Regions from separate parts of the Homo sapiens genome. Here region 1 is linked to region 2. The links come from fine-mapping of genetic effects on gene expression. A gene starts in region 2. The other region holds a variant in brackets. All regions are shown on one strand. Distances are between the middles of the regions. Region 1 holds the start of LOC124903039 (a long non-coding RNA gene). Region 2 holds the start of VPS37B (VPS37B subunit of ESCRT-I).

Evidence for each region.
Region 1: its variant is fine-mapped to the expression of VPS37B in whole blood (INTERVAL, PIP above 0.99).

The regions. Positions count from the first base shown.
Region 1 is chr12:122,863,334-122,866,240 of GRCh38, reverse strand. It overlaps VPS37B (VPS37B subunit of ESCRT-I), which reads left to right. Exons shown (of 4, transcript NM_024667.3): 4 at 1-911. LOC124903039 (a long non-coding RNA gene) reads right to left here and starts at 2,105. Exons shown (of 2, transcript XR_007063500.1): 1 at 1,659-2,105; 2 at 884-1,241. The variant A/G (reference allele first, on the strand shown) is at 1,378.
Region 2 is chr12:122,894,745-122,897,580 of GRCh38, reverse strand. VPS37B (VPS37B subunit of ESCRT-I) reads left to right here and starts at 1,457. Exons shown (of 4, transcript NM_024667.3): 1 at 1,457-1,629. The coding sequence starts at 1,519. RefSeq lists a silencer at 1,314-1,463 and an enhancer at 1,644-1,793.

The DNA.
Region 1 (2,907 bases), 31 kb after region 2:
TGCAATTTCCTTTTGTGCAAGCAGTGCACGGTGCCCCCCCCTCGGGTGTCCGTGCTGTGCCTTAGCTTCCCCAGGTGCCGGGACTCACACCTGCTAGGGGCTGGGCAAGGCCCCGGCTCTGCTTTCTCTGAAGGGCTTGTCCAAGTTCATTGCCCTGTTACAGGTGGTCAAGACGTCCGGCCGCCTTGACCCAGGCTACCCTTAGCCAATATCCTCTGCCCCTGGGTGGCTGGTGGCTGGGCCTCAGGGTGGGCAACGTTAGGGGTTTGGCGAAAGCCCGCCCCATGGGATTGAGGGACGGGGCTGCACTCCAACCGTCTGCACCTGCTCTTCCCCCACCCCTGTGGGACCTCATCTTCACGTGCCATGTGTGCTGAAGGCCCAGGGCCCAGCAGGGGGCAGTGGCACCTGTTGACGGAAAAGGCCGAGGTGCTTACCAGTGGACCTTCTGGCCCGCCCCTCCCCTGTCACTTGTCGGGCATCCAGGGCCCCGACCTGTGCCTAGCCGCCAGGGTGACAGAAGGCAGAACTGAAGCGGGGTCTGGGCCACGGGCCAGGCCACTGCCTTTTGTCCTCAGTGACCGTACATTCCTGCTCTCGGACTTGAACTCTACTGTAACTGTTTTCTTAAAGGAAATGAAGCTGTACAGGACGATTCACTGCCATGCCAGTCAGGCGGGCTTGCCATGTTCTGTGAATCTCGAGTGAGCGGTGCCACCCGCCCCCATACCTCCGCCACCGGCCGCTGTCGGGGATGCCACAGCCTGCCACGGTCGCAGCCAGACGTGAGCTTGGCATTGAAGTTGCAAAGCGGCCCCTGGCCGGGCTCGCCGTCGCTGTCCAGGGCCGTGTCCGGTGCTGTGGCTGTAAAGCTGTAGGACCCTTTTTAATAAATAGAGAATTATTAATAACAGGCCTGTCACTTATTTACTTGGGGATGTGGATGTTCATGATGTCTGGTTCTGAAACATCAGTGATCAAAGTTCCAGCAGGGAAGCTGGCTGGGACGTCTGTTTTTGAAGCTGAAGACAAAATCTCTGCCTGTCCAGGGCCCCTGGCACAGGTGGGGCCTCTTACCCTCTTGGTCACCAGTCTCATAAACAGCAGTCACGTACAGGGCATGTTCTGTGTCTTAAGAGGGTGTCTTCAGGATCACAGCCACTGTGTCCAAGTAGGGGACTGAGGGTGACCTCAGGGCTCAGACTGTGCCTGCTCTCTGTCCGTGAGGTTGCCGCCGTGTGCTGTGTGAATGGTGGTACTTGTTAGGATTTTCTGTGTTGGTTTTTAGTGGGAAAACCAGTGGCTCTGATGTTTTGCTTTGGGGACTTGCCAGCAGGTGTTTCAAGAAGGCAGTTGCCTCTGCCCATTTCAAAGCCC[A/G]GTGGGTGCTGTTTCCTTCTCTAGGCCGAGAGGAGGGGACCCTGCAAACCCTGCCTCCTTGCAGAGCTACAGAACTGCCCTGTGCCCGCCGCCCCGGCTGAGCCGTGCGCCTGCAGCTATGTATGTCCGCCGCCCCAGCTGAGCCGTGCGCCTGCAGCTAGGTATGCCCGTCGCCCCGGCTGAGCCGTGTGCCTGCGTCCTCACCACCCCAGCTAAGCTGTGTATCTGGGTCACAATGCCCCTGCAAGGGACTTGAGGAACTGAGATGAGAGCAAGCTCACCTGTTGCTGTCTCCTGTAATAGCTGCCATTCCTGGCACATCATTGTTCTATGAGAATGTACAGGAGAAATTTCTGTGGTTTTTCTGTGAGGAAGAGGGAAGGATTTCCTGAGAAGCCAGTTAGCCTTAAAGAAAAAGTGTGTGATAGTTTCTTTCTTCCCAGTGGCTGCCAGGAAGCTTATAGCCAAATCTGTTGTCCACTCCAGTGAGGATGCTGGACTTCACAGAGTCTTGTGGCTCATGAACCTTGCCTTGTGGGAGCCTCTCCTCCTGCTGTGTGTCCCATTCACAAGGAGGACCAGGGAGAGGCAGTGACAGGTCCAAGAGGGTGGGGGAGCAGGACCAGACCCCAAGCTCCTGCTTTCTAGCCCCACACTTGAGGCAGCCTGTTCAATTAAAGGTTTCGGCCAGGCACAGTGGCCTGGAATCCCAGCACTTTGGGAGGCTGAGGTGGGGGGGGGGGGGGGGGGGGGGCGGATCACTTGAGATCAGGAGTTCGAGACCAGCCTGGCCAACATGGCAAAGCCCCCATCTCTACTAAAAATACAAAAATTAGCCAGGCATGGTGGTGCATGCCTGTAATCCCAGCTGCTCGGGAGGCTGAGGCAGAATTTCTTGAACCCGGGAGGAGGTTGTAGTGAGCCAAGGCACGCCACTGTATTGCCACCTAGGTGACAGCAAGACTCCATCTCAAAAAAAAGTTTGGTCATTGAGGACTCAAGAATGATCAGTTAAGCGTTGTCAATGCCTGTGGATTTTCATTTGTATCTGGTGGAGAATCAGTTCCGTTAGTGTTTCTGAAGCCATCTTGCCTTGTAAACAAACAAGAGCCAGGCACAGGGTCTGTCTTAGCCCTTGTGGTCAGTTTGCAAGGCCCTTTCACCCTAACCACCCGGCACAAGCACCCCGGCTACGCAGCCTTAGCTGAGGCCCCACTTCATCCTCCAGGAGACGTGAGCACAGGTGGAAGGCTTGTCTGAGGCCATACAGGAGCCAGCCAAGGGGCCTTTTCTCTCCCCTGACCCACCCTGTCCTGTTTCTCTATAAATGCCAGTGATCTTGGCAGGGGGTAGGACAGGGTGAGCTCCCCCACCTCAGCCTTCCCTCTGGCATGGTGCTCCTGGGTAAAGTGGGTGCTTGTGAGGCTGCCACACACCCAGGGACTGAACACCTTTCCAGGTTTCCGGTAAGTGCAAAGGCTGTGTGTGGCCATGGCTCAAGTCCAAGCCAGCCGGGAGTCAGGGTCCCCA
Region 2 (2,836 bases):
TGGACGACAGAGCAAGACTCTGTCTCAAAAAATAAAAAAAGCAATAGTTCCTCTAACTTTCATCATTTTTCTGCAAACACGAGCCCTTAGTACAACGGGCTGGAAGGAGAGAAGAGGTTGGCAGAGCCCAGCCTAACGTATGGATGGAGAACACAGACCTTATGTTTTACCCATGGAGTTGCAGAAGAATCAGCTTTATACACAAAGCCCCTAAGTCTGCCGATAAGCATTTGCTGAATGCCTCGACTGTGTTCAGAGCTGAGTTATGAGACGAGGTCAGTGTGTTATGATGCCAGCGTGGTGGACGCCAGACTGGGAGCCAGGAGACCTGCCAATTACTTGATTTTCAGAAACAAAGCAAAAGCCCAAAAAATTTCCCCTTCTCAGGGCTTCAGTTCCCTTATGTGTAAAATTAGGGGGCTGTCATGGTTAACCTCAGCCTTAGGTTTCTTCTAACTAGAACTGTGACAGATTCCAAAGTAGGATAATGAGTTCCCAGGCTCCTGGATCTTAAGAGGCTTCCCGGTAGCTGAGAGACTGAGAGCGACTGCACCCTAAATCGTGTTGTTTCTGAAAGAGCACAGGTTGGCCCACCTGGATGTCTGGGCACCTTCCTCTGAGGTGATGCAAAGGGGCCACTCAATGGGTCCTTGCTCAAAATGCTCCAGCCTTACTGGCCTTCTTCCCATTCCTGAATGCACCAAGTTAGTCCTGTCCCAGGGCCTTTGCACGTGCTGGTTTTGCTGCCTTGAGCTTCCTACAGGAATGGTGGCTGGTTCCTCCCTTCTCATCCTTCACATTTCCTTAGACGCCACCTTCTCCGAAAGTGCCATCTCTTACTACCCTAAAGGTCTTTTTATTTTCTTATTTCAGTGTCCATTCCCTTATTTGTGATCGCCTAATTATTTTACTTATTTCTTGTTTTGTTTGCGTCCTCTTTCATTCTGTTAGCTCCATGTAAGCAGGGGTCCGTTTTGCTTTATTCAGAACTGTATACTCAATGCCCAGTACAGAGTAGGTCTCAAAACATATTTGTTAAATGAATGACGTGGCAGCTCCACAATTCCAAGTAACCAATGACACCTAAAGTTGTTTCCCCATGAAGTCTCTGTCTTTTGGGTTCCGTGCATCGGGCTGGGCTCACAGGCTGCGGGAACTTCCTTCCCACTGCCTGTTTTCCTTGGATCGCGGTATCTCTCTTCCTGGAGGAAAAAGGCTCTTATGACCTCATGGCGCGCTCTCCCGAGCCGCAGTGACGTCATTAATGCGCTCACGCGTCACAGCCCAATCATAGGGCCCTTCCCCTCCCTTTAGAAGTCCCGACTGTCCCTGACACATTCCACTCCAAGCGAGCCGCGACACTTACGTCACGTCCGCCCGCCCGCGCGGTGATGACGTCACGACCCAGGGCTGGCGTCACGTGTCCCCCCCGCGGGGGGCGGCCCTTGAGGGCGGCGCTTCCGGTCGGCGGAGCCTGGTGGCCGCAGCGGCGGTGGCGACGACGGCCGAGACGTGGGGATGGCGGGCGCCGGGAGCGAAGCCCGGTTCGCCGGGCTGTCGCTGGTGCAGCTCAACGAGCTGCTGGAGGACGAGGGCCAGCTGACGGAGATGGTGCAGAAGATGGAGGAGGTGAGCCGAGCTGGGCTTAAGGCGGCGGCTGTGAGGCCTCGAGCGGGGTTCGCTCCTCGAACGGTGGCCGGAGGCGGAGGCGACCGCGGCGCCTCCGGTCGTGTTGAGGGGACTGGGCTAGAAATGGGGGCGCTTGGGGCGGGGTGCGGGAGCCAGGGAACCGCGACTGGTGCTTAGGCAGGAATAGGGGGCCTGAGAGGGGGTTTGAGGCACTGAGGGGACCGAGACTAGGGCGGAGGCGGGAAAAAGGGTCCTGAGACGGGGCTTGGGGAGCCGATTGGGGGTCCTGAGACAAGGTTTTGTGGGGCTGAGGACTTAAGGCTGGGTCTGAAGACTTAAGGCTGGGTCTGAAGTGGAGATTAGGGAGCCTGGAATGGGAATTTGGGGATTAGAGTGCTATCGTTGGGTCTAGGCGGAAGAGGACGGAACTGGGGGGATCTGAGATTGGTTTGGTCGGAGGAGCGGGGAGAGTAATAAGGGCTGAGTCGGAGGCGAGGATTAGGGGTGACTGAGGGGGACCAAGAGCTAGATCTGGTAGAGGTTGGGGGGTTTCCTTTGAGAGGAAAGGTTGGGGACAACCAGGGGGACTGAGGCAGCTATAGGGGATCAGAGTAGGTTTTGGGGGACTGAGTGGACTATCCAAATAGGACTCTTAGGAGAGGATTGAGGGTTCCAAGATGGGTTCGGGAGGCTGAGGGTCTGTAGCTGAGTCTATGAGGTGGTTCTGAGGCTCTTTAAGGGTTGGGCGAGGGTCCCCAGCCCAGGGTTTGGAGGCAGGAGTCCATGGTCATACCATAGCCAGGGTAAGGTTTGAAGGTTCCATGTATCTAAGGGGTCCCAATAATGCCCCTGGAGTCTGACTTCTTTTGAAGTGGCCCCAGCAGAGTTACGGGAGTTCGTGGATGGGCCTAAGGGTGGCGACAGGATACGTTTTTCTGTAAGGGTTGCCCCCTCCACCGAGGAAGGGAAGGTGGGAAATTTAGTGTGGCTGGCTTTGTACCACTGCGTCCCACGTGTCTGGGACTAAGGAAGGTTCCTGGAGCAGTTTCAGGAAGAAGTTAAAATGGGGGTTTGGGGCTGGCTGCCAACCCTCACCTCTGAGAGTCAAGCCTTGCCCAGCCCCTGGAAGGCATGTGCCAGCTCCTGTTTCTGGTTATCTTCCTTCACACCTTGAGGTGTGGTTTGCTCTCGGGTAACTGACTTCATC